Linked DNA regions of Homo sapiens. The protein of the gene in region 3 interacts with the protein of the main gene of each other region in a biochemical or structural test. Each region holds a gene or a part of one and is shown on either strand. Other genes may lie near its edges.

Region 1 (7,522 bases), on a different chromosome or scaffold from region 3:
ACTTTACGTGGATTTTCTCATTTAATCTTTAGAGTAATTCTGAGGTAGATACTATTATGACCCCATTCTAAAGAAGGGAAAACTAGTCCAGGCGTGGTGGCTCACGCCTGTAATCCCAACACTGTGGGAGGCTGAGGCAGGTGGATCACCTGAGGTTAGGAGTTTGAGACCAGCCTGGCCAACATGGCGAAACCCCGTCTCTACTAAAAATACAAAAAATTAGCCAGGTGTGGTGGCGTGCGCCTGTAATTCCAGCTACTTGGGAGGCTGAGGCAGGAGAACTGCTTGAACCCGGGAGACGGAGGTTGCAGTGAGCCAAGATTGTGCCATTGCACTCCAGCCTGGGCGACAGAGCAAGACTCTGTCTTAAAAATAAACAAATAAATAAAAAATTTTTTTCAAAAAAGGGAAAACTGAGTCTCAGACTTTTGCAACAAACTTCTGCAAGGGAGTGACAAAGCAGGGATTTGAAATCAACTCTCTCTGGCCTCAAAAACTAAGCTCTTAAGCACTGAAATCCACCAAGCTCGTTCCCCCATAGGACCAAAGGGTGCTTGAATTTTACTACTCCAATACCCAGTCCCTGCTTGGGTACCCTGGACTGGAAGCAGTGGAAAATTACAGGAATTCTGACTCCTAACAATAGGCTGGAATCCTCCAAAGCTATGTAGTGGGTGGAGGGGAGGCAGCACTGACTGAGATGCTTTAAAACAACTCGTTTCCTTTCTTAGAACACCTGAGACCAGGAGGCGGACAAGGGTATGGTAGGAAAAAAAAACAACATTTCTTTTTCTATTCCAGACTCTTCTCTCTGTGCTCCTTTTCAGTATTTCACTCCAGGAATAGCCCAGGCAGCATGGCATCATGAGAGCAGTCACGGCAGCAAGAGCTGCCACCAGACACTGGCATGTACTAGGCACTAGCAACACGCCAGGCTCCCTGCATTTTAACCTCATTTTAGCCCTTTTCACAGGTATTATTTCTCCCTTTATACAGGTGAGGAAGCTGAGGCTCAGAGCCCTTAGTTTGTCCAGGGGTATATAACTATTAAGTAATACAGCTAGAATTCTAGCACAGTTCTCTCTAACCTGTCACTGCTTTTAGGATGCACACCAATTGTCCCTAATGCTTATTAGCATGTAGATTCCTGGGTACAGAACAGGTCTGAAGTGGGACCCAAAAGTGTGCTTTCTTAAACAAGCTCTCAGCTGATTCTGAGGCAGAAGACCAGCCACTGGGAAACAAGGCGCTATGAATGTTTTTTCAGCCTGTGTTCCTCAGAAATACTAGAGTCAAAAAAGTGACCAGACATCTGAAAAGAAAGCCGGGAGGCGGAGTTTCTATGGTTAGATATGTTTAAGAAATACTGCATATTATATTCCTTTCTGGATGATTTACAATGTACATTAGCAAATTAAGGATTCTGAAATAGCTTGTGGTCAATAAACTTATTCAGCTATACTTAAGAGTATTTCCAAAACTTTAGTTAACTACAGAATCCTCCTATATTAACAATATCTATTAAAACCTCCCAAGACTCAGCAAATGGAATGGACTTTAGGAAGCAACTGCTATGCTACACTTCCTAACTCCAGCCCGCACTGGCCTCTCTCTTTCCTACCTCTCTCTAAGGATGCAATAAGAGAAGTCCTAAGCTCTGGTCATGGCCTCACCCTCACTTACTACGTGTGACTTTTGGGAAGCCACTTAACCTCTTTGGGTTTGCTCCTCAGCAGTTAATTAGGGGTAATAATACCTGCATGCCGATAGGGACTTCATGATTAGGATAATGGAGGTCCAAACACTGTGTAACCCGCACAAGACTGCACTCCCTGGAAGGACTGTTACATCTTTTGGCCTGTGACTAAACTCAGTTGAGCACTGTGTAATATACCAATTGATCTTGTTTTCCCACATTTCGTTTATGGATTTCATCTCCTAAATAACTGTGTGATCGCAGCCCTCTGTGGGCTTCATTTCCTCCTCTGTAAAATGAGGGCTCTATTTTGAGGACCCTCCGGGCACTGGCCTTTTAGAAGTCTACTAAAAATCAAAATGCTAAAGGGCAACACATGTTACACCTCACTATGTACCAAACGCTTCGTAAGCATCACCTCCTGACTCTCCACAACAGCTTTATGAGGCAGATCCTATTATTCGGCCCTATTTTACAGGCGGAAACTTGGACTCAGAAAGGCAAAACAGCTTGCTCAAGGGCTCACAACTATTTAGGTGGTAGAGCTAAGATATGAACCTACCTCTGACACCAAAGTGCACTTCAACACCCTACTATCACCCAACAAAGAATTCTGGCCACAGAATCACCTTGCTGCGGTATTCCTGACTGAATCAAGATACGCTGGGGAAGAGGCATCTGAAGATAGCCCGGGTTCTGACCTCGGCCCTGCTGCCTAACTGCCTGGTGACTTCAGGTAAGTTCTGTGTCTTCTCGGGGTTCACTTTTCTACACGCGAAATGGCGGTGTTGAACTAAGTCAGTGGTCAAACCAGCTCACTTGTGGCGCCTGCTACAACCAGAGTTTCCTGATGACTCTGATGCAGTGTGGGGTGGGTCCGGAAGCCTGGATTTTTATCCGACGCCCCAAATGAGATCGGCGGAACCAGAACTCTAAACCTCCGGTCATGGCTGATGCCCCCGCCCAAGGCCCCCATGAGGGCCTTGGGAGGCTGTGGAGCCCAGGCCAGCGCCAGCCTGGACCTGTGGGGTCCAAGGTCCCCAAATCCTCGAGTGAGCGACGTCAAGGGGGCGCGACACGACCTCGCGAATGTGCGGTCCTTCATGACGTGAGCAGGGCGCGACCGACGGTCCCTTTTCGGTTCTCTACAGCGCAAGGCCTCGCTGAAGCGAACCCATCGTGGGAAGGGCGCGGAGAAAGCGGGGAGAAAGAGCAGGGGGACGTCGGGCCTGCGCCTGGCACCGCCGCTACCTGGATTCGCGGGCCCCTCACACACTCACCTGCCGGTAAGGATAGCTGGCCATGGTGATTCTGACGTCACACTCAGGCAAGGGGTGGGGCTTTCCGCTCTCAAACCCGCCCCTCGTCTCGGCTTTGGGGCTGGGCCCGCATCTGATTGGACGTCCGCGCCTGTCAATCTTGGGTGCTGTCGGCCGACGGAAGTGACGATGGGGGCGGTGGGCGGATGCCTACCCGAGAGACCAGGGGAGCTAAGTGATTGATGGAGCTTCCGGAAGTCTTGGCGGCTGTACCAGCGCTAATGTTCCTCCTTTTCCTGAGGTGGAGTGGGCCGAAGAGGTGGTCAGGTTGGGAAATTTAGTGAGAAGCCTGGGTGGGGTGTTGCTGCGGTAGCCATGTTATAACCTGGCAAATGGGACGCATGATAGTGACGTAATTGCTGGAGTAGCTCCTGAGTTTCCGCAGATGAGCCGCGGGAAAGGAGACGAGGGGCGGTGGCCAGGCGGTTGCCCTGACAACGGGGAACCGACCGACTCTTCCCGGTAGGGAGAGGCGATGGCGGAATTACTCCTCTAATGTCAAGGTACTGGGTACCAGTTAGTACCCTTGTAGTGGGATACAGATCTGTGGTCTTTGGAGAAAAAAACCCCAGATCATTAGAGTTGGAGGAAAATTGAATTATCTAGTGCCTCTTTCTTCATAAATGGGGAAACTGAGGTGCAGAGAGGCAGTTGCCTTGCCCTAGCTCACAGTGGGTCGCCTAGAACCGGGGTCAATGGATGTCCAGTTCTCAGCAGGGAGGTCTAGGTCGGTCCCCATCGTAGGTCAAATCCTGGTGACCGAGTGATCTCAGCACCATGTACTTGCCACTCAGTGGTTCCGTTTCTACACTTATTTGTGTGCTTATTTGATTTCTTTGTCAAGTTCTTTCATGTGGGCTAGGGTTTTGTCTGTTTTTGCTTGTCATTATAACTCCAGTACCTAGTATAGCGACTGACACGATTATTAAAATAAATGAATAAATGAATGTTACGAACTGTTATCCAGTCTAGTCCATCTATCTAACCAAGTGCACTTTCCAAAATCACAGTGCTGATCATGCCACTTGCCCACTACACAGCCTACAATGGATGCTCTTCATCCACGCCTACAAAATAAGGCCCAATCTCTTCATTCTGGTACTCCAGGCCCTTCAGAATCTGGCCCAGCCTCAACTTTCCAATCTTACGGCCCCTTCTGCTACTCTGTATTTCTGTGCTCAGTTCCACCATTCAGCACTTCTGCTTTGGAGGGAGGATCTTTGTTTTATCACTTTCTAACTGTATCACCTTAGGCAGGTTTTTTGTTTGTTTGTTTTTAATTTCCAACTTTTAAGATCAGGGGTATATGAGCAGGATGTGGTTTGTTACATAGGTAAATGTGTGCCATGGTGGTTTGTCGCACACATCATCCCATCACCCAAGTGTTAAGCCCAGCATCCATTAGCTATTCTTCCTGATGCTCTCCCTCTTCCCACCTCCCTCTACGCTCCGACAGACCCCAGTGGTGTATGTGCTCTCCTCATTCAGCTCCCACTTATAAGTGGTAACATGCGGTGTTTGGTTTTCTGTTTCTCTGTTAGTTTGCTGAGGATAATGGCTTCCAATTCCATCCACGTCCCTGCAAAGGACATGATCTTGTTCCTTTTTTATGGCTGCATAGTATTCCACAGTGTATATCTACCACATTTTATTTAGGCAAGTTATTTAACCTCTCTAAATTTCACTTTTCTTAGCTGACAGGAACAAATGTGTAAATTTGAAAATGAGCTTATTATACCTGCTCATGCCCCAAACTTAGGTTCAAACCACTCCTTTCACCTGGACCAGCAGCCCTCCCAACTCCAGTCCTGCAAGGCTCAGTTCCAATTCCATTCTCCACCTAACCCTCCCACATTCCCCTTAGCTCCAGAGTTAGCCACTCTCTCTTGCCACTCCCCCTTTGCACTTGGTACTGTCACTGTGTGGTATTCCAGCCTGCCTTGTATAAGAGTTTTCTTTTGGTGTTTTCCCCAAAACCCATTCCTCTCCATCTCAGAAAATCCACCCAGTCTCTCAGGCCAAAAACCTAAGATCATTCCTGTGTGTCCTTTTTTTCTCCACACACTCCCTCACCTCCCTCATCTCCATTTGCTCTAATTCAAACATGTACACATCTGCTCTTTTCTCCCTGTTCGCACTATCACTGTAGTCCAAGACACTATCATCCGTGCCTGGATCACTACAATAGCCGACTGACCAATGTTCCTGCTCTCACTCTTCTCCCCACGCTTCATTTTCTCCACAGGCAGCCAGAGTGGTTATCTTATTCCTTGGCTTCAACTCCCTGGGGACTTCCCATCACTCTTATAATAAAAGCTAAACTCATCCTAATGACATTCATGGCCACACATACCAGCATCTCCAGCCTCATTTCTTGCTGTTGCTGTCCCCCTTGCCTCATTCCAGCCATGCCGGCCTGGTTGTGCCATTCCTGGAATGTACAGAGCTCATTCCTGGATGTTGGCTTTGGCTGGTCTCTGACTGCCTGCTCATTCCTGCCTCCAGGTCTTTGGACTAGCTTTTCCCTCTGTCTGGGATAGTCTTCCCTTGACTTTTCACTGGTTGGCTTCTCCTTATCATCCAGGTCTCAGTTCAGATATCACCTGGGGTGGGGGGAGTTTCTTGACACTGCCCCCCAAGCATTCCCATCATCTATCTTATTTTTTCATAATACATGTCACTAGTTGAATTGTCCACTTTGTTTACATGTATATTGTAGAATTGTCATTTTCTTATGTAGTCCTCTAACCTCAGCACCTAGAATAGTGCCTAGCATGAATTCAATGTTAGTAGTTATTATTATCATGTATTGAGTGCTTACTAGGTGCCAGACGTTGTGCTAAGTACTATGTGTTGTTTAATTTTCACCACAGTCTTTTGAGATAGAGACTATTACCCATTTATAATGAGGAGCTGAGGCTCAGAGAGGTTAAGTGACCTTCCTGTTATCAAAAAGATAAATGGAGCCCAGGCGCAGTGACTCGCGCCTATAATCCCAACACTTTGGGAGGCAGGGAGGAGGACCGCTTAAGCCTAGGAGTTCGAAACCAGCCTGGACAACATAGTGAGACCCTATCGCTACAAAAAATAGTTTTAAAAAATTAGCCAGGCATGGTGGCATGTGTCTGGAGTCCCAGCCACTCCAGAGGCCAAGGTGGGAGGATTGCTTGAGCCCAGGAGGTCAAGGCTGCAATGAGCTGTGTTTGCACCACTGCACTCCAGCCTGGGCAACAGAGAGACTCTGTCTGGGGAAAAAAAAAAAAAAAAAAAAAGATAAATGGAGAAGTAGGACTTGATCCCAGGTCTGCATTTTTTTTAACTACTCAGTATTTAATAGTTAGTAGATTGTGTCTTCTTTACCTTCCTAACCCCCCAGTTCAAAAAATATTGGTGGAATTGAGCTGCAAAACTTCAGAAGGGAAGAAGGTTGAAGGTCAAGTGGGTATTTGCCTGGAGAGAGAACAGTGACAAGCTGGCCTGCAAACTGGAGTCATGTGACACACACTCATTTATTCCACAAACATATGATCCCATTGGGTTCCCACCTCTTGCCAGGCTCTGTTCTAGGTGATGAGAATCCAACTCCTATGAGAATTATTTGCCCCCATTCCCCTATGCCCAGCAAAGGGCTTAGGAGAACTATCTGTGGGAGGTCTGTGCTATTTCGTGGATGGAGCATCCACATCTTCTCTTAGGGAGTCAGGAACGTGCCAAAGCCAACAGCCAGGGCTGTGCCTCTGAGGACCCACACAGGCCCAGGTATGTTTGTTTTGGAGGGGGCTGGATAAAAGAGAGATCAGGATCTTCCTAAGACTGAAAAACAATCAACTCACTTCCAAAACCTCATCTACCTGAGGCAGACAGAGGTGGGTGGAGAAGTTCCTGTTATTGTTTCACTTGTAGCCCAAGGGGAAAGCATGGATTCCAGACTTTTTTTAGAACACAGAGCACTTTCCTGAGTTCGTGGAAGCCCTGCGGTTGACCCATTAGGGGTGAGGCAGAGCTTGGTAATGAAAAGCCCATCCACTGGAAAATATTGCCTCCCCTAGAGACACAGCCTCCCAGGAGCCACTTGGCTCGCACCAAGCTTCTGTAAGGCTTACTGAGAAGGAATACCAACACCCACCTAATTATTATGGAATTAATTCTCTTTGATTCCAACTAGATCCAGTTCTGAAATTTAAATTCCAGTTGGATGCTGTGGATCAGAGGATGATTTGCAACTTTCCACAGAAGCAACAGAGGAATGAGAACAGCAGACGTGGCAATTTGGCCACACTCCCCTTCCATTATGGGATCATAAGTAGAGTACGTTGACATCGTCTATTCCCATAAACTGTTCAGGACAGCCACAAAAAAGATCTAGTCCTTTGGGATCTCCAGCACCAAAAAAAAAAAAAAAAAAATATCCATGGCCGGGCACGGTGGCTCACATCTATAATCCCAGCACTTTGGGAGGCCGAGGCAGGCAGATCACCTGAGGTCAGGAGTTCAAGACCAGCCTAAC
Region 2 (7,026 bases), on a different chromosome or scaffold from region 3:
CCCCGCAAGAGACAGGGTCTCCCTCTGTTGCCTAGGCTAGAGTGCAGTGGTGCGATCATGGCTCACTGCAGCCTCAAACTCCCAGGCTCCAGAGATCCTCCCACCTCAGCCTCTCAAGTAGCTGGGACCACAGGTGCTCACCACCATGCCAGGCTAATTTTATTTTTTTGTAGAGACAGGGTTTTGCCATGTTGCCCAGGCTAGTATCAAACTCCTGGACACAAGCAGTTCTGCCTCAGCCTCCCAAAGTGCTGGGATTACAGGCATAGGCCACTGCACCTGGCCTACTATTCCTTTAACATCCAGTTCATGTGTCCCTCCCTTCCAACCGCTGCATCCTCACAAGACAGTTATGATTTGGCTCCTGCTTCTGTAGATCCTCACTTCCAAACTTTTGTCTCTTCATTTCTGATCCACTCCTGAGCAAAGGTTTATTCTTCTTTCTTCTATGTAATGTCCTTACTTTGTATAGGCTCACTATTCTCATGATCCTCTTTATAACATTTTTTTTGTCTATATCTCTGTCTCTACTAGCAGGTTGTGAATTTTCTGAAAGCAAGAACTATATTTACCCACTTGGGGATCTGTAGCACCTGGCATAGTTAAGTGCTACATAGTAGATATTCTCAATAAATGTTTGTGAAATGAGTGAACGGGTAATAGAGAAGTGGTCTACAGATACCTACTTTACTTCCAATTTCTGCTTATTCTATACTCTGTTGAATAGTGATTCTTACCCACTGGGATCATATATCTAATTGAAGAAAGTGGCAAACTCCCTCTCCATAAAAATGCAAATAAATTTGGTACAGGAGGGGTTAATGAAATCTTTGAGCCAAAATGCACACTTAATTATGAAGCCCTGATGGTAAGTAACTGCATCCTATTTGCAAGTTTTGTAATTGCCCAATCTTGAAGAAACCATAACATCAAGACAAATCCGTACCTGAATTTCGTCGCACTTGATTAGCTTTTCCACCTCTCCTTGACTCAGAAGAATGAACTCTTCATGCTGTACCACTTCAGGAAAATGCTTCTGGCTAAAAACCTCAGCTGCTTGCATCAGGTCAACACAATTGTGGGTTTCAGCAAAATCCCTAATACCCAGGCAATTAGAAGGGTCCAACTGACTTTCTAAGAACTCACAGCAGGCTTGTTTCACACCTAGGACAGACACAGGCAGCAAACACTTTAGAATAGTTGGACAGGTGTGATCTAGGATATATTCTTGTATCTCAGCATCTTCTCTACATGTTATCAGATGAACCCTTGTTTCAACACCTAAGAAACAGATTAGAAATTCTATGCTTAAGGAACTTAAACTCTATTTCTGGCTTATGTACTGTGCCACTTTCAGCAAGACCTTTACACCTGTCTCTGCTTAATCTTTAAAATGAGTATTGCAAGATGAATCACATCCAGAGACCTGGCACAATTCAACAAAAATGCCTATAAAACTCTTGGGAATCAAACTATAAAACCAATTGCGAATTCAGCATAATGTATCCATTTTCTACTCTACATGAAAACTTACTAAAAGACTAGAGTGAAAGAAAAGGAGAAGATAGTAATAACAAATCTCATATTTATCTAATTGAAAAGTTCAGAGTATTTTAATGTTATGGCTATGCACTAATGCAAAAGCTTCACACTGTTTAAATCATGTATTAAAAACTAAAAGTGTGTCAATTATGTATATATAAAAACTGAAAACATAACTGAATGTTAAAAAAGAAAAACTGGGGACCAGGAACGGTGGCTCGTGCCTATAATTCCAGCATTCTGGGAGGCAAGGTGGGAGGATCACTCGAGCCCACGAGCTTGAGACCAGCCTGAGCAACATAGAGAGAACTCATCTCCACACAAAAAAATTTTGTTTTAATTAGCTGGGTGTGGTGGCATGCACCTGTGGTCCCAGCTACTCAGGAGGCTGAGGTGTGAGAATTGCTTGAGCCCAAGAATTCAAGGATACAGTGAGCTGTGATTGCACCACTGTGCTCTAATCTGGGTGACAGAGTGAGACTCTGTCTCAAAAACAAAACAAAAAACCTGGGAATTGTAAGGGAAAACAAACCACCTGTAATCCTGTGAAAATATCATACTTTAATATTTTGTGCATCAATTTAAATTTCATGTATCTTAATGAAATACTACCACTTAATGGCCAGATAGATAAAGAGTATCCATGTAGGCTATGTATAGTATCACTTTTTTATTATATTTCCTTATAGGTGTGTTACATACATGTATGTAAGAAAACACATAATTTCTCCTTCCTCCATTTTTTTTTTAAAACAGAAAAGGTGCAAATGCTCTCTTTTATAGAGCCAAATACTCATATCTGGAGAAGTTCCTTTATAGTGCTATTGACATCTGATCTCTTATTGCTCAATGAGACAAAAGCCATGGCCAGCAAACATGAACATCCATAGTTTGTCTCCAAAATGTTCATGATTAAGTTTACACTATTAATTTTCAACCTTTCCAGGGCTATTTTGACATAAACAATAGCAAGTTTTAATGTCTGTACCTTTCAACTGAAGCAGACAGGCTGCAGGAAGCAGTTCTTGTACATTCTCCACTGTCACATGTACTGTTTCTGTGTACACAAAGTCCAATAAAATTTCCATGGTAGAGGCAGTCAAACCTTGGATGTCAACATAAGGTTTCCCCTTCTCTGAGAGCTGAAAATTCAAAAGGTATAAAAGAATGATGGTTATAATTCCACAAGATAAAGGCAGAATCTCATATCTAAGAGCTTAGAGATGTTAATAATATTAATTGAACATTTATCTTTAAAAATTACAGGCCAGGCGTGGTGGCTCATGCCTGTAATCCCAGCACTTTGAGAGGCTAAGGCAGGCAAATCACCTGAGGTCAGGAATTCAAGACCAGCCTGGCCAACACAGTGAAACCCCGTCTCCACTAGAAATACAAAAATTAGTTGGGCATGGTGGCACATGCCTGTAGTCCCAGCTACTCAGGAGGCTGAGGCAGGAGAATTGCTTCAACCCAGGAGGCGAAGGTTGCAGAGAGCCAAGATTGTGCCACTCCACTCCAGCCTGGGCACCAGAGTGAGACTCCATTTCAAAAAAATAAAAAAGAAAGAAAATAAAAAAATAAAATTATGCTCTATTTTGTTGGATTTTTTTTTTTTTTTTTTTTTTTTTGAGACGGAATCTTGCACTGTTTCCCAGGCTGGAGTGCAGTGGTGCCATCTCGGCTCACTGCAAGCTCCACCTCCTGGGTTCATGCCATTCTCCTGGCTCAGCCTCCCGAGTAGTTTGGACTACAGGCGCCCGCCACCACGCCCGGCTAATTTTTTGTACTTTTAGTAGAGACGGGGTTTCACCGTGTTAGCCAGGATGGTCTCGATCTCCTCACCTCGTGATCCGCCTGCCTCAGCCTCCCAAAGTGCTGGGATTACAGGCGTGAGCCACCGCGCCCGGCCAATTTTGTTGGATTTTAATAAAGCAAATATGGCACATTATCTGTAGCTTTCCAAATGAAGTAGGTAGTTATCTATACGCCAGGAATAAGTAATAGGTAACACCTTCCTGGAATAGTAATTTTGCCAGTGAATAACTTTAAAAATCTATTTCATATTAAAATACAGATGTATTTACAGAATAGAATGCAAAAGTTCCATGAACATAACACTGGTCCGTGAACTTTTAAGATAAGACACAATATTTCAAAGAAATTTCATGTTCGTAGAGGAGCCTGTGGGTTATAACTCCAGTCTCTCCAGGACTACCTAGTTCCTATCATCTGTCCTTAGACTACTTTTTTTTCCCCTTTGTTGAGATAGGGTCTTGCTCTGTTCCCCAGGCTGGAGTGCAGTGGTGTGATCTCAGCTCACTGCAACCTCTGCCTCCCAGGTTCAAGTGTTTCTCGTGCCTCAGCCTCCCAAGTAGCTGGGATTACAGGAGTACACCACTACAACCAGCTAATTTTTTTTTTTTTTTTTGACACAGTCTTGCTCTGTTGCCCAGGCTGGAGTGCAGTGGCGTAATCTTGGCTCACTTCAAGCTCCACCTCCCAGGTTCAAGCGATTCTCCTGCCTCAGCCGCCTGAGTAGCTGGGACTACAGGCACATGCCACCATGCCTGGCTAATTTTTGTGTTTTTAGTAGAGATGGGGTTTCACCATGTTGGCCAGGCTGGTCTTGAACTCCTGACCTCAAGTGATCTGCCCACCTCAGCCTCTCAAAATGCTGGGATTACAGGCGTGAGCCACCATGCCCGGCCCTTAGACTGCATTTAGTAATGACGAAAAAGAACATGCAGGTCATCCTAAGGGACTTTCTTATGTAACATCATCTGAATACAAATAAATTATTTGTTACTTTTTCAAAATATTGGGTTAGACTAACTGAATTGTTAGCAGTATATTTAGTCTAAATTGTTAGTAGTATATCTTCTTGAAGCTATGAGTATTGATGAGGCCAGATAATCATAGAAAACTGTTTAGCTAAGAGAAGAAATCTTCAATTTTACAGGAAACTATCTGAAAATACCTTATGAAAATTTTACTAGATCTTAATCTTAGTTTAGAAATTCATTTTACTTAAAAAACTCTGGTGCATCTCCATTATTAACTAAATGGCTTTAACGTTTTTTATTTCTCCATCAGCCAGAGAATAACCAAAAAGCACTCTCTACCAAAGCCAAGAACAAAATCAATCCCTAACACTAAAAAAGTCACTAGCACATTATTTTGAAAAAACATATTAGGTTTTATTAACATTTAATACAGTACTAATATTCATAAACAATTACTATCCCAACACATTAAATGCATTTAATAATTATGGTACTGAAATATGTAAGTACATGTATTCCAGAAATTTCTCATTCAATAAACTACATTTCCATCAAATAGTTTAAATATGGAAACAATTTCACTATGTAAGAACTTAGAGCAATTATACATTTTACAGTTATATTTTGCTTTAGAATTTTTCAGCATGCTTCTCATTTACTACTATTTCATCTGATTCTCACAGCAACCTGGTAAGGTAGTTAGGTCTGATATTATTACTATCTAAGAGATAAAGGGGGGCCGGGCACATGGCTCAAGCCTGTAATCCCAGCACTTTGGGAGGCCGAGGTGGGTGGATCACAAGGTCAGGATATCGAGACCATCCTGGCTAACATGGTGAAACCCCGTCTCCACTAAAAATACAAAAAATTAGCCAGGCGTCAAGGAAAAAAAAAAAAAGAGAGAGCGATAAAGGGTCTAAAGATCAAAGAAGATCCAAGACTTTTTTTTTTTTTTGAGACAGAGTCTCGCTCTGTCACCCAGGCTGGAGTGCAGTGGCGTGATCTGGGCTCACTGCCAGCTCCGCCTCCCGGGTTCACGCCATTCTCCTGCCTCAGCCTCCCGAGTGGCTGGGACTACAGGCGCCCGCCACCACGCACGGCTAATTTTTTGTATTTTTAGTAGAGACGGGGTTTCACCGTGTTAGCCAGGATGGTCTTGATCTCCTGACCTCGTGATCCACCTGCTTCGGCCTCCCAAAGTGCTGGGATTACAGGCGTGAGCCACCACGCCCAGCTGAAGATCCAAGACTTAACCAGTCACTTAGCTAGTAAGAGACAGATATCATTCTTATTAAAGTATTTCAGGAAAAAAAAAAGAGAGAGAGAGAGAGACAAAACCCAGGTCCTCCTGCCTCAGTCTTTGTGATCTTTCAATCAGATGACATTTGAGGAGCATTTCATAGCTGAAGAGAACAAGGAAACCATCTAGTTCAACTACTTTATTTTACAGATCAACCCAGTGAAGTTAGATGGTTCCCAGGGTTTATACAGAATTGCTAAGAGAACTAAGCCTAGAATCCAGGTCTCTGGACTCTCTCCTTTGAACAATTACTCTCAAAAATAAAGACAAAACCATCTAGCATTTCCTTGCCTGATGTCAGTTTTTAAAGAAAGAAATCATCACTGATGAGAAAAAAAGAATTCATTTCCAAATAACAAAAGAGTAAAGACACTATTTTCAAGCTGACAAAAAACAGGATGCACAACATATAATTAGCAATCAGCCGTTCTAGTTCATTTCTTGCTCAGCAGCTGCTGGGTGACACTCTCTTTACCCAGTTAAATTCCAAATGCTTCTGATGATCTTGGGTATATCTCATGGAGAACAGTATAGGACAGGGATCTGCCTTGGTATATCACACAAGTTTATTTAAAAATTAGCCTGAATTAGTTGGAATGACCTGTCAGGTTCCTGTTTTCCCTACTAGCCATGTGACTGAGCATTGGCTCATAGTATTTTTAACTATACCAGTTTTAAAATTAGATTGTAGTATATAAAATTCATACTTCGGAGGCTAAGGCGGCACAAGAGTTACAAACTGTTTGGGCTTTAGAGTTGGAAAATATAAAATGAAATCCCACCTCTAGCACTTACAAGCCATGGGACTTTGGGCAAGTGATTTAATATCTGAAACCCTATTCCTTCATTTGTAAAATGAGATGGTAATACCTACCCCTAGGGTGAGTCAGATATGCACAACAATTACTAGCACAGTACCTGGCCCATAAAAGGTAGTTATTACCATCACAGAATACGCCTCTCCCATTCTGATTCAGCAGCAATATCTACACTAAGATGATAGAACTAACTAAAAAAAAAACAAAAAACAAACAAAAAACTTGTGCTTAAAAAGACTTTTAAAACAGTGTTTTCATAATGAAATATTTCAGGCATACATGTAAGTGTAAATTATATAATAAACAGTGATGCACCCACAACTGAGCTTTGAAAAAATAAATCAAGATAATTTATTTAAATCTGCTCTTAAAATGAGACTTGGGATCTTGAAAAACAAAGATTTGCAATGTTATTTTCTGTTCAGCTTTCTAAGAATATTCAACACAATATATTCAGCAGCCTTACTATACATTTCAAGTATTTTGTCAGGCAATTACTAAGTAGTGTTTCTTAATACTTTGTGAGCACTACCTGTATTCTCTCAAGCCAACCTTTTCCTAATTCCCTTTGTTAAGTGCTTAT
Region 3 (7,026 bases):
AGCCTGTATATATTTAAAAATCTCTGTAAAAATGGTCCCGTGATGGGGGCTGGGCACGGTGGCTCATGCCTGTAATCCCAGCACTTTGGGAGGCCGAGATGGGTGGATCATGAGGTCAGGAGATCAAGACCATCCTGGCTAACATGGTGAAATCCCATCTCTACTAAAAATACAAAAAATTAGCCAGGCATGGTGGTGGACGCCTGTAGTCCCAGCTACTTGGGAGGCTGAGGCAGGAGAATGGAAGGAACCAGGGAGGTGGAGCTTGCAGTGAGCAGAGATCACGCCACTGCATTCCAGGCTGGGCGAAAGAGCAAGACTCCATCTCAAAAAAAAAAAAGTCCCGTGATTTACTATATCTGCTTATAGACATATATGATATAACTATTTCTTTTTATATAAAAATGCTAACATCAAAATTGCTCTTCATTCATTCAAACTGATATTAACTGTTTTTTTTACATGCCATCTATTGTGCTTAATACTGGAGGAATAAAGATAAAATACAATTCCTGTGAAGGAAAATATTTTAGATGTAACACATCATGATCAAAATGCTATGGGAACACAGAGGAAGAACACTAAACTTGGCTGATAGAATGTCAGTAACTTGCCAGGGAGAGAGAGGCTTTCTAGAGAAGATAAAGCTTAAACTGAATAAGCTAGGTGCAGAAGAGAAGAAATTAGGTAACTCATACTATCTTCTCTCCTTTGAACTTACCTGTTGCTAGGTAAATGGGGTGATTCTGGGCAGGGCTCCATGCCTGCATGGCTGTACGATCTACTTCCTTTAACTTCATCCTGCTAAAGGGAATATTTTATACAGAAACAGCCTTGAATGACTTGAATGTCTAACACAGAACACAGATATTTTAAATAGAAACATACTGAACAAACCACTACAACATTAGTAATGCCCAACTGCAAATAAATCAAATCGGTTTAGGTGTCATTTGTTGGATATATTCATTAGAAAGAAGACAAACTTGAGGCCGGGTGGCTCATGCCTGTAATCCCAGCACTTTGGGAGGCCAAGGCGGGCGGATCACGAGGTCAGGAGATTGAGACCATCCTGGCTAACATGGTGAGACCCCATCTCTACTAAAAATACAAAAAATTAGCCGGGCGTGGTGGCGGGCACCTGTAGTCCCAGCTACTCAGGAGGCTGAGGCAGGAGAATGGCATGACCCGGAAGACAGAGCTTGCAGTGAGTTGAGATTGCACCACTGCATGCCAACCTGGGCGAGAGAGCAAGACTCTATCTCAAAAAAAAAAAAAAAAAAAAAAAAAAAAAAAGACAAACTTGATAAACCATTTTGAGACAAATACTGGGCTATTCTGTTTACAGATTATAGTTCTTCAGTTGAATCAGTCTAGAAAAATAGCCCACAAAAATAATAAGGTAGTACCTGAAGAATTAACTTTGCTACACATGTGTTTATCCAACTAGGATGGATGACAAAACATTACGGGTAAGAGCAGCCAAAAAATAAATAAGGTGCAACTTCCTGGAGTAGGATTACTCAATGATAAGAGCAGTTTAAAAAATTAATTCAAAGTTACAACATATTAGAGAGAATATAGTAAGCCCACAGATTTTAAAGATAAAGTAGAAATTATTAGAAAACTGGTCACTTCAAGGTATAATCCCATATACCACTTGTTTACGTATTTTCTGTCATTAAAGTTACTTTGATGGAGTCAGGCATGGTGGCTCATGCTTGCAATCGCAGCACTTTGGGAGGACGAGGCAGTTGGATCACTTGAGGCCAGGAGTTCGAGACCAGCCTCGCCAACATGGCAAAACCCCGTCTCTATTAAAAATACAAGAAAATTAGCCAGGTGTGGTGGTGCATGCCTGTAATCCCAGCTATTTGGGAGGCTGAAGCAGAAGAATCACTTGAACCCAGGTGGTGAAGGTTACATTGAGCCGAGATCATGCCACTGCACTCCAGCCTGGGCAACAGAGCGAGACTCGGTCTCAAAAAAAAAGTTACTTTGATGGAAAAATTACAACGGTATAGTATTATGTACTTTTTAAAGATCTTTGTTATTTTTACATAAATATATTGAAATGGCATAGTACTGCACTATAAGATGTACCATAATTACCTAGTCTAATACCAACAAACACCTAAGCTGTTTTTAGCTATTTTTACAAAAAAGTGCTGAAATAAATGGTCATCTGCACGTTATTTCATTAAAAAGGGACAGCTATAAATTTCCAGAAGTAAAATTGCTAAGTTAAAAGGTTAATGCAATTTTAATTTTGATGAATATTACCAAGTTGTCCTCTATGGCAATTGTGCCTTTTCATACCACCAACAGTAATATACGATTACTTATTGCCCTACAGCCTTATCAGAGCATACTGTCACACTTTTAGATCATACCAACACTAAAAAATGAAAGGCCAGGTGCAGTGGCTCAGGCCTGTAAGCCCAGCACTTTAGGAGCCGAAGCAAGTGGATTGCTTGAGCCCAGGAGTTCAAGATCAGCTTGGACAACATGGTGAAATCCCATCTCTAGAAAAAATACAAAAATTAGCTGGGCATGGTGGTGCACGCCTGTAGTCCCAGCTACTCGGGAGGTTGAGGAGGAAGGATTGTTTGAGCCCGGGAAGTTGAGGCTGCAGTGAGCCGTGATTGCGCCACTGCAATCCAGCCTGGGCGACAGAGTGAGACCATGACTCAAAAAAAAAAAAGAGAAAAATAAAAATGTTAGCTCTGTATAGTAATACTATAAATGATGTATAACATCTTTTTTTTGTATGACTATGGGTAAACATATTTCCTTTTCTGTCATCTCTTCTGTCTAGTCATGTATTATTTGACCATTTTTCTTTTCTATTCTTTTTTTTTTTTTTTTGGAGATGGAGTTTCGTTCTGTCACCCAGGCTGGAGCACAGTGGGGCGATCTCGGCTCACTGCAACGTCTGCCTCCGGGTTCAAGCGATTCTGGTGTCTCAGCCTCCCAAGTAACTGGGATTACAGGCACACACCACCACATCAGGCTAATTTTTTTGTATTTTTAGTAGAGACGGGGTTTCACCATGTTGGCCAGGCTGGCCTCGAACTCCTGACCTCAGGTGATCCACCTTCCTCAGCCTCCCAAAGTGCTGGGATTACAGGGGTGAGCCACTGCGCCCGGCCATCATTCGACAATTTTTCTATTAAGTTGATAGACTATCTTTTGACTTTGCTTTTTTCAAAAAAAAAATTTCTTTTCACCTTTCATAGGATTTTGATTAAAAATAAAAAAAGCTATATGCTTTATCTTTTAGAGTTTTACGTTCCTAGAAAAGTTGAGCCACAAAGTACAAAAAATTGCTACACATTTCCCAACCACATAACCTTTCTCACCACCAACATCGCACATCATAAAGGTCTATTTGTTTCGATCCATAAACTAACATGAACACATCATTATCACTGAAACTCCACAATTTATATGAGGGCTCACTCTAGGTGTTGTATATTCTATGGGTTTTGACAAATGTATAACAACATGTATCTGTCATTATAGTATCACACAGAGTAGTTCCCTTGTCCTAAAATCCCCTATGCCTATAATTCCTCCTTTCCTTTCAATAGAGCCTATATAGTGAATTTTTGTGAATTGTTCTTGGGACCTAGAAAGAAGGGGTGCTCTCTGTTTTCAGGGCCTAGAGCTCAATATATATTAACTAAGTCCTCTTTATTGATTTGTTTAGATCTCCTATATCCTTACTTTTTTGTCCACTTGATCTGCCTTGGACCGAAACAGTGAATTAAGTCTCTTACTGCTAATATATTTATGTCAATTTCTCATGGTATCTCCTGAAACTTTTGCTTTATGAAAATTACTTTGTTATTTAATAGTTATTTGGTGCATATCCATAATGTTCAAATTCACTGTCAAATATACACTTTAGCTTTATGAATATCCTTCTTTGTCTCAAATAATGACTTTTGGTCTGAATTCCACCTCTTGTTTGCCTTTACATGTATACTTTTGCCCTTCAGAACTACTTTGTCATCATTACAAACAAAATAACAAACAAAAAACCAACAGATTTTACTGGTGATCCAATTTGAAAATCTTTTCACAGTAGGTTAGCTAAGGACATTTAAAATGTATTGACATGACAGACATGGTTGGTCTTAGTTTTACCATATTTTACTTTGGTTTAATATCTTTGGGTAATAATTTTTAAAAAGTCTTTCATTGTCTGTTTTCTTTTTTGTGCAATTACCATTTTTCTGATAATTAGGATGATGTATATTTTCATTATAATATGTGTTTCTGATTCTATCTTTTTAACTGTAATTTTAAATATTTTACTTAATACCATTAATCCTCTATTTCTTTACACAGAAACTATTAACTCCCTACTATGAGCACTTATGAAATTAGCTTGTATAATCTTACTGCCCATCCACACAACATGGTTATAGTCAATAGTATTATCTTTCTCAGTGTTTACCTTTGAACTCCTTATACTTCTACTAACTGATCTGTCAGCTTTAAATGATGTCCTTTGACTCATAGCCATTACAGATGTGGCAATTCACAAACTTATTCTACCTCCAATTTCTTTCCTCTTCTCTTTTTATTAGTTGTATAATCAATCCCTTACATTATTGGACATTTAACATTTACATTTTATTCTTTCTTCCTCATTCTCACTTTTGTTCCAGTCTCAGTCCTGCAGTTAAAATGCATACTCAATGCTCTCCAAGAGTATTTTTGCCAGTTTCCTTACTCAGCTCCAGAGTTTATCCTCTAACATTTTCCTTAAGATTGCCTTAAACATATGCTCCGAGTCTTGTACCTGCAAATTGTTTATATTTGAAGGAGATTTTATAGAGGAAAAAATTAAGACACAGAAAGTTAGACAATCTGTACATGCTAGCAAGGGGGCAAGGGGCAGAGCCAAGATTGGAACTTGCAAGTTTAGCTCCAGAGTTCTTTCTACTTCCAACAAGTTCAGGTATTCAATTTTTATATCATAGAGGAAATATTAACATTTAGAAGAAACAATAACAAAGCAACCAGCATGCATGATGAAACTGAAGAAATGCATTTTAGAAATTGTGTTAGGTTAGAGCAAAGTGAGATTAGGAGGCAGGATGTATCACATGGTTAAAAGCATGGTCTCTGGAGTTAATCCTCAATTTAACTACTGGCTCTGTTACTTATTAGCTATGATACTTTGGACACATTATTTAACCTCCCTGAGCCCCAGTTTCTACATTCGTAAAATAGGGAAAAGAGTGACAACCTCATGGGATGCTGTGAGGTTCCAATGAGATCATACGTTTTATAATAGGGAGCCAAAAAAAGTGCTCAGCACATGGGTTAGTGCTTTTGATAGGTTTGCTATTTTTAAAGATTACCACTATCATGAGATTAAACAAGAAAACTTCAGGGTTATTTGGGGGGAAAAATTCCAACTTTCTAAGATATAAAAAAGGCATTTATTTTCTTACATGAATCTCCTCTTCTTCCTCTTTGCCAACTGTCTCACCTGATCTTTAATAATAAATTCAAGTTCCAGCTCCTCCATGAAAACTGCCCTGATGATTCAATCCACATTGATCTAAATACTCCCCGACAAGTTTGTACTTGTCAATACTATGATTTAAGCATTTTATAATAACGTCATTATATTTTAATAAACATTTTGTAACATTCTACTAGCACATATTGTTTACATATTTTCCAATTACCTTTTTTTAACCAGTTGCCTTATGTGCTATCTTATCTCACCAACTAGACAAATAACGTCTTTTTTCAAAACTTTTACCCCTTTTTAGACTCAAAATTGCTTAGCACAGAAGGAGATATACAGAAAGTTTTGATTTATTTTAAATGTTTATATTTAGGGGAAAACAAGTAGACTAATGAGCTAGAGTGACCAGTTTCAGATAAAACATTTACTTTTAAATTCTTAACTCTTTAAAGGATCATTTACTTTTTAAAAAAGGAGAAAGTATGGTTAAGGGGGAAAAGGTTATAAGATGCCTTCAGAATAATTTCTAAAAGTGAAATCAAAATAGCTGTATTATTAAAAAAATGGAATACAATTATAGTATTTCTAAGACCTAAGTACAAGGACTACCTAATTCATTAATGCTTGGTTAATGTGTAACATTGACTGAAAAAGAAAGAGACACATTTATAAGAACATAAAATAGTTAAATGTGAATTCAAAGCATTTACTAAAGTTTATTTCTTAGCCTTAGTACTCAATGTTCTAAGAAAACATTGAGAAAAGAAAAGAAAAGAAAAGAAAAAAGAAAGGAAAAGAAAATTGTGTGGGCTTGTTCATACATGCCATCTCCAAGACAGTATCTATAGCACGGCAATTAAGAGCATGGGGTCTAGGGCAGACACCCTCAGTTTAAATTCCAGCTTCACTATGTCCACCTCTGACTTTAATCATGTCGCTTTATCCATGTATGTCCTGGCTCCTCTCTCATTAAAATAAGGAGAACAGTATCTATACTACAGGGTTGTTGTGAGAAATAAGTGGTATTACTCAGAGTGGTTAGAACAGTGCCTGGCATATATAAACAAATGCTCATAAATGACAGTTATTACAAACATCACTACTTAAAACGTCTACCACCACGAAACTTCAAAAATACATCTATTAGGCCGGGCGCGGTGGCTCACGCCTGTAATCCCAGCACTTTGGGAGGTCGAGGCGGGCGGATCACGAGGTCAGGAGATCGAGACCACGGTGAAACCCCGTCTCTACTAAAAATACAAAAAATTAGCCGGGCGCAGTGGCGGGCGCCTGTAGTCCCAGCTACTCGGGAGGCTGAGGCAGGAGAATGGCGTGAACCCGGGAGGCAGAGCTTGCAGTAAGCTGAGATCATGCGACTGCACTCCAGCCTGGGTGACAGAGCAAGACTCTGTCTCAAAACAAACAAACAAACAAACAAACAACAACAAAAAAAACATCTATTAGCCAGGCGCAGTGGCTCATGCCTGTAATCCCAGCACTTTGGGAGGCCGAGGTGGGCAGATCACTTGAGG
Region 4 (7,026 bases), on a different chromosome or scaffold from region 3:
TTTAGGGGACCACGTATTGCTTGAGGCATCATCACAGGTCCAAATGAACACACGACCATCCTAGGAAGAAACAGGATAGAGTCAGGAGGTGGAGTCAAGACTCCTGCGTTTGTGATGTGATGTCCTCCCAGTCTAGAGCCACCCGGCACCTCTCTGCAGGAACAGGGTGGGGGATTCAAAGGGGAGCCGAGGACCTCTGGGGCGTCCACAGCTTTGTTTCTGTCTCTTCACACTGGTTAAGAGTCTCCCGGATTCCTTTTCTCATCCGGGTTTCGGAGGTGGACTCTGTCTGCATTGCTAACTCAGATTTTCTCTGGGGTTTTCCTCATGCCTGCCAAGTCACTTCCACTGGCCGTCTATACCTTCTCAACTGAATGGGCAGAGCTCTCCAAAAACCAAGCTCCAAGAATGAGAAGGCACAAGTAAAAAAGCACAAAAATCCCAAGTTTAGAACCAAACCAAACAGGTTCCCATGATGTGAAAGGCCTAGCTGGCTCCCTCTAGGGTGGTGGTGTATAACTGAAGGCTCACCCTTGGCCGTCCTTGCTGTCTGGGAAGGGTGGCTTGGTAGCTAAGCGTATAATTCCCATCCAACCCCATCGTTGCTTGGGAACACTTGGAACTGCACCTGGGCACCTCGGCGCCCTAGTCTCACATGGGTCAGAAGGGAAAATTCATCCCGAATCCGCCTCCTTCTTGGTGCCGGTTCTGTTGTAGCTGTCTCATCTCAGTGGAGGCAGGCCACTTGTGGCTTCTGACCAAGACTTCCCCACACAATGACCTGACTCCCTGTGCTCTGGGCCAAAGGTGCCTGTTGCTCTCCCTTTACCTTCCCAGAGGACTTTCTGCTAAGGAGACTAAGAGCTGATGGGCCTGACTCGAGACTAAATGACAAGGGATACTCATGGCCCTGGGCTGACCTGGGAGCAGCTGGCGATGGTGCTGGTGGGCAGGCCGATGGAGGGGGCCCAGGCCACATCTCGAACCCAGTCACTGTGCGCTTCTAGCTTCTGCTCCTCCTTCCACTGGCCGTCCTCCTCCTCCCTAACAGTGGGGACAGAAAGAGAATCAGCAGGGGGCCGTTCCCACACCTCAACTCCTCCCCAACCCAACAGGCTCTGCCTGGGGTGGAGAAGCGATTCCATCTTTCTTCTTTCATTCATGGAGTTTGTGGCATTTTATTCCCTTCACCCCAGCTGTAAAAAAAACCCTCCAGAAAATGCTCTGCTTCCACAGCCAAAGAGTCAGCTCCAACAGTTGGGAATTAGGTGAACAGGTGTTGTGTTGTTTTTCAAGGATGTCCTCCAACAGATTGAAAACAGTATTTTACTGGCAGGAGGGAGAAAGAAAGGTGACCTTGTTTCTTGTGAGTGTGGCTGAGTCATGGTGAGTAGGGTAAAGGGTAGAAGTGTCCCCTCAAAGAGAAGGCCACACATCCCTACTTACTTCCACAGCTTGATGAGGTTGTCACAGCCACCTGATGCAAACCTCTTGATGTAATTGGGTTTCTGCCCCGATGGGTGGTCTATGAGGCTTCCAGGTACAACAGCAGGGGCCCAGCTGACGGCATTGCAGCCAATCTGTAAAGATGGGACACATGGTGACTCTGCCTTGCAAGAGAACACTGCTTCTGCAGACCCAAGCCTGCTGTCCCTCTCCCCTCCGCTTCTCAGGACTGGAGTGTGTGTGAAGGCTGACATGAAGCACTCATCATGGGGTCCACTGCTCAGAATTCTCCCTCAAGGATCCCAACAGTGTGTGCATTTTTCTGCAGTGTGCGCTAAAAGTAGAAATTAAGAACTCCCACAAGTTTAAGAAACAGGACATTTTCTAAACACATGAAAGAATGGTACATTGGAGCTTTTTTTTAAGAAAAATCTTTTATTATAAAGTAATAGATCAAGAAACAAGAATTCTGCCACCTGCCTGAAAAGCCCTGTCATTATGCCCTTCCTAATCACAGCTCCCTCTTCCACTATAAGTAACCACTGCCCTAACTTCTAACCCATTTTCCCCCCATTTTATCACCCAAATGTGCACCCCTAGATACTATAGTTTAGTCTTGTCCATTAAACATTTTTTTGGATGTTTTTTACATCTCCTACTTTGCAGATTCCTCCTCTGATTTTTTTCCTTACAATTTTTCTGCTGAAGAGAGCCTAGTCTCTCGGTCTGGGTTTTGCTGCTTCATATGCAGTTCAATATGTTCCTCTGAATTCCTGAAAACTGTCAGCTGGAGCCAAGACTGGACAGACTCAGGTGTGATCCCTTTGGCAAGACTAGAGCTGGTGCGTTCTCTCATCAGGAGGCACGTTAGATTGTCTCTTATATTAACAGCTGTCAATAACTCAGGCCTCTCTTAATTCACTGGGGCTTGTAAAATGGTGATACTCTAATTCCATCCTTTCTTTGTCATTTATTCCATGGAATGCTCCAGATAGGGACACTTCTTCTCATTAACTATTCAGTTACCCAGGGATAGAGGTCTGATATGGTTTGGCTGTGTCCCTACTCAAATCTCATCTTGAATTCCCACGTGTTGTGGGAGGGACCTGGTAGGAGGTAATTGTATCACAGGGGCAAGTCTTTCCCATGCTGTTCTCATGATAGTGAATAAGTCTCGCTAGATCTGACGATTTTAAAAATGGGAGTTTTTCTGCACAAGCTCTCTCTTTTGCCTGCTGCCATCCACGTAAGCTGTGACTTGTTCCTCCTTGCCTTCTGCCATGACTGTGAGGTTTCCCCAGCTACGTGGAACTGTGAGTTCTCCATCCTCTTTCCTTTGTAAATTGCTCAGTCTTGGGTATGTCTTTGCCAGCAGCGAGAAAACAGACTAATACAAGGTCAAAAAGGAAAGGCTGGATAAACGCTTGATTCTTTCTGAACTGGTTCTATCACTTTCCAAAGATGACTGATTCTCCTCTTTATTTATTATTAACAATTTTTTTTTTTAAAAATTGAGACAGGGTCTCACTGTCACCCAGGCTAGAGTGCAGGCTGGTAAGATCATGGTTCACTGCAGCCTCAAACTTCGTAGGCTCAAGTGATCCTCCCACCTCAGACTCCCAAAGTACTGGGATTATAGGTGTGAGCCACTGCCTTTTTTTTTTTTTTGAGACAGAGTCTGGCTCTGTTGCCCAGGATGGAGTGCAGAGGCGCGATTTTGACTCACTGCAACCTCCACCTCCCAGGTTCAAGTGATTCTCCTGCCTCAGCCTCCCGTGTAGCTGGGACTGCAGGTGTGTGCCACCACGCCTGGCTAATTTTTGTATTTTTAGTAGCGTCGGGGTGTGTTAGTCCATTTTCACGCTGCTGATAAAGACATACCTGAGACTGGGCAGTTTACAAAAAAAAGAGAGGTTTAATGGACTTACAGCTCCATGTAGCTGGGGAGGCCTCACAATCATGGCAGAAGGCAAGGGAGGAGCAAGTGACATCTCACATGGATGGCAGCAAAAAGGGAGAGAGAGCCTGTGCAGGTGAACTCCCCTTCATAAAACCATCAGATCTTGTGAGACTTATTCACTATCAAGAGAACAGCATGGAAAAGACCTCCTCCCATGACTCAACTCCCACTGGTTACCCCCTACAACACATGGGCATTCAAAATGAGATTTGGGTGGGGACACAGCCAAACCACATCATGGGGCTTTGCCATGTTGGCCAGGCTGGTCTTGAACTCCTGAGCTCAGGTGATCCGCCTGCCTCAGCCTCCCAAAGTGCTGGGATTACAGGTGTGAGCCACTGTGCCTGCCCTGGGCCCAGCCTTTTAACCCTCATTTCGTCTTAGTTCTCTACAAGTAACTATATATTTATGCTGAAGTCTTTGTAGTCATTTTAGTTGTGTGACTTGTATCCTCTAGTAGATTTCTCAGGAAGGGCTCCTAGAAACAATAGTCCCTGAATTCTTGCATATTGATAATAGTTCATATCCTTTACACTCAAAAGCTAATTTTAAAAACAGCTTTGATATAGTATAATTGACATAAACTGCATATCAAGTGCATGATTTGGTGAATTTTGACAAAAATATATCCTGTAGGATCATCACATCACCTCAATCAAGATAAGGAACATGCCCATCATTCCCAAAAGTTTCCTCGGATCCCCTGGTAATCCATCTCCCCATCCTGCAGCCCCCAATCGTGGTGACCATGGGCCTGCTCAGCTGCATTTCCTAGATATTACAGCAGTGGAATCACAGTGTGTCCTTTTTCTTCTTTTTTTCACTCAGCATAATTATTTTGAAATTTATTCTTCATCTTATTTTGTTAAGTCATTTCTTTTTATTGCAGTCATTTCTTTTTATTGCTCGCAGTATTTCCAAAGTATGGATATATCACAACTTATCATTTACCTGTTGATGGACATGTGGACTATTTCCAGTTTTTGGCTATTAAAGCTGCTATAACCTTTTGTGTATAAGTCTTTGTGTGAACTTCAAAGTCAATTTTCCTGGTTATAAATCCTTGGCTCACACTTTCTTTCCTGGAGTATTTTAAACATGTTATTCTTTTTTCTTCTGCACCAATCCTTACTATTGAAGAGTCTGACAATAATCTAATTGTCTTTCCCCTTTAAGTCACAAGGTTCCTTTTCTCTAGAACCCCCCAAAATTTTCTTTAAAGTCTAATAATTTTACTAGAATTATATCTTTTTGTTGGTGATGCTGAGTTGAATTTTTTTTTTTTTTTTTTTTTTTAGAGACGGGGTCTCACTATGTTGGCCAGGTTGGTCTTGAACTCCTGGCCTCAAACAGGAGTTCACCTCGATCTCCCAAAGTGCTAGGATTACAGGCTGAGCCATCACGCCTGGCCTTGATTTTTTTTTTTTTTTTTTTTTTTGAGACAAGTCTTGCTTTGTCGCCCAGGCTGGATTATAATGGCGTGATCTTGGCTCTCTGCAACCTCTGACTCCCGGGTTCAAGCAATTCTCTTGCCTCAGCCTTCCGAGTAGCTGAGATTACAGGTGTGCGCCACCACGTCTGGCTAATTTTTGTATTTTTAGTAGAGACGGGGTTTCGCCATGTTGGTCAGGCTGGTCTTAAACTCCTGACTTCAGGTGATCCGCCCACCTCAGCATCCCAAAGTGCTGGGATTACAGGCTGAGCCACTGCGCCCGGCTGATATTGTTAAGTGTGGGGTATGATCTCTCAATCTCAAGTTTCAAATCTTTGTTTTTTAATTTTAAGAAAGTTTTCTGGATTACTTTTTGGTATTCTGTTTTCCTTTCCAGGGACTCCTGGTATTCGTATGTCTGACCTTTCTGCCTGTCTTTACTTTTGGTCAAAACCTTTTTACCTCTTCATTTTTTTGCTCTTGAAATGTTTCCTTTTTCACACTGTTTATCCTTTTCAGGCAGGATCTGCTGTGTTCATCGACACTTGCATTTCGTCTTAGTCTTTCTTTACTTCTGAAATGATTTTTAATTCTAATTCTTTCCTGAGTTCTGTCACCTTATTTCTGATTTTTAAAAAGTTGATTTACACTATTCTCTCTTGTTTTGTATTGTTAGAATGTCACCTGGCTTGATTTGAAATAGCAGGTTACAGCTTGGCTCGGTTATGTGGGCATGTCTTTCTAATGTGCTCTCATTGTCCGCAGGGAGGTTATTTTGCATATTCTTGTTTCTTATATAACAACTGTATGCAATTTCACTTCAAATACTTTTCTGTTATTTTTAGGTGAGATGAGTTTTCCTGATAAGAAAGGCTCAGGAAAGTCTAAGCTCAGAACTCTCCCTTGTTTCTGTGTGGTGTTAAAAAACGTGGGAGATGGCTTTCAGGAGTTCCTGTCTTTGTTCCTCTTCCCCACATTGGTCTACATCTCATCCTTCCTTTCCTGTGTCCCTATCCAGCTCAACTGTGATTTCATTTCCTGCAGTTCTTCCTCCTGAGGGGCCCTGTCCCAGAGGCTTGCTCTGGAGGATCACAGAGCTCAGATTTCTTCCCGCCCCTTCAGCCTTTCTTATTGTGGGCCGCTTCCACTCACTCGGTGTTACAGAGTGCAAACCCCTCCTGGTCATTTCTCCAAAGGCCCCCAGAAGATGCTCACCATCATCTTTGATTAGCAAAATGCAAATAAAAATCACAATAAGGGCCGGGTGTGGTGGCTTACACCTGTAATCCCAGCACTTTGGGAGGCTGAGGTGGGCGGATCACTTGAGGCCAGGAGTTTGAGACCAACCTGGGCAAAATGGTGAAACCCTGTCTCTACTACAAATACAAAAATTAGCCGGGTGTTGTGGCGTGTGCCTGTAATTCCAGCTGCTCAAGAGGCTGAGGCATGAGAATTGCTTGAACCTGGGAGGCGGGGGTTGCAGTGAGCCGAGATCATGTCACTGCACTCCAGCCTGGGTGACAGAGCAAGCCTCCGTCTCAAAAAAACAGAACAAAACAAACCCAAAAAATCACAATAAGATACCACCTCACATTCACTAGGACAGCTGTAACCAAAATGACAGACATATGTTAGTGAGGATGTGGAGAAATTAGAACCCTCATACACTGCTGATGGGAATGTAAAAGGGTACAGTTACTTTGCAAAACAGTTTAGCAATTCCTCAAAAAGTTAAACACAGAATTACCATATGACTCAGCAATTTCACACCTAGGTATAGACCCAAGAGAATTAAAAACATATGTTCATGCAAAAACTTATCTGCAAATGTTCATAGCAGCATTATTCATAAGGCCGAGAACATCCATCATCTGATGAATGGATAAACAAAATGTCTATATTCACAATGGAGTATTATCCAGCCATAAAAAGGAATGGAGTGCTGATACACGCTATGATATGGATGAAACTTGAACTCATTATAGTAAGTAGGAGAAGCCAGTCACAAAAGACCACAGATTGTCTCATTCTATGTACAACTGATCCTCAATTTCATTTCATTATAATGCTGACAAGATTAAAAAAAAAAAAACAACTCCCAGCGGGGGCCCCTGCCTGTGTGGAGTCTGTGTGTTCTCCCTGTGTCTGCGTGGGCTCTCTCCTGGTACTCTGGTTTCCTTTCACACAA

Evidence for each region.
Region 1: the proteins of SEC31A (region 3) and PEF1 form a complex in vitro, tested with the Homo sapiens proteins (one study listed by BioGRID).
Region 2: of the proteins of SEC31A (region 3) and KLHL12, one has a biochemical effect on the other in vitro, tested with the Homo sapiens proteins (3 studies listed by BioGRID, with this or other methods).
Region 4: the proteins of SEC31A (region 3) and SEC13 form a complex in vitro, tested with the Homo sapiens proteins (2 studies listed by BioGRID and IntAct, with this or other methods).

The regions. Positions count from the first base shown.
Region 1 is NC_000001.11:31,641,865-31,649,386, forward strand, and holds the start of PEF1 (peflin), read right to left. Parts: upstream 3,013-7,522; 5' UTR 3,001-3,012; coding exon 2,977-3,000; exon of another isoform or gene 1-2,976. UniProt on the Homo sapiens protein: Calcium-binding protein that acts as an adapter that bridges unrelated proteins or stabilizes weak protein-protein complexes in response to calcium.
Region 2 is NC_000001.11:202,917,225-202,924,250, forward strand, and holds part of KLHL12 (kelch-like protein 12), read right to left. Parts: intron 2,685-7,026; coding exon 2,531-2,684; intron 1,165-2,530; coding exon 947-1,164; intron 1-946. UniProt on the Homo sapiens protein: Substrate-specific adapter of a BCR (BTB-CUL3-RBX1) E3 ubiquitin ligase complex that acts as a negative regulator of Wnt signaling pathway and ER-Golgi transport.
Region 3 is NC_000004.12:82,881,137-82,888,162, forward strand, and holds part of SEC31A (protein transport protein Sec31A), read right to left. Parts: intron 805-7,026; 5' UTR 801-804; coding exon 722-800; intron 1-721. UniProt on the Homo sapiens protein: Component of the coat protein complex II (COPII) which promotes the formation of transport vesicles from the endoplasmic reticulum (ER).
Region 4 is NC_000003.12:10,304,113-10,311,138, forward strand, and holds part of SEC13 (protein SEC13 homolog), read right to left. Parts: intron 1,581-7,026; coding exon 1,447-1,580; intron 1,045-1,446; coding exon 921-1,044; intron 61-920; coding exon 1-60. UniProt on the Homo sapiens protein: Functions as a component of the nuclear pore complex (NPC) and the COPII coat. At the endoplasmic reticulum, SEC13 is involved in the biogenesis of COPII-coated vesicles.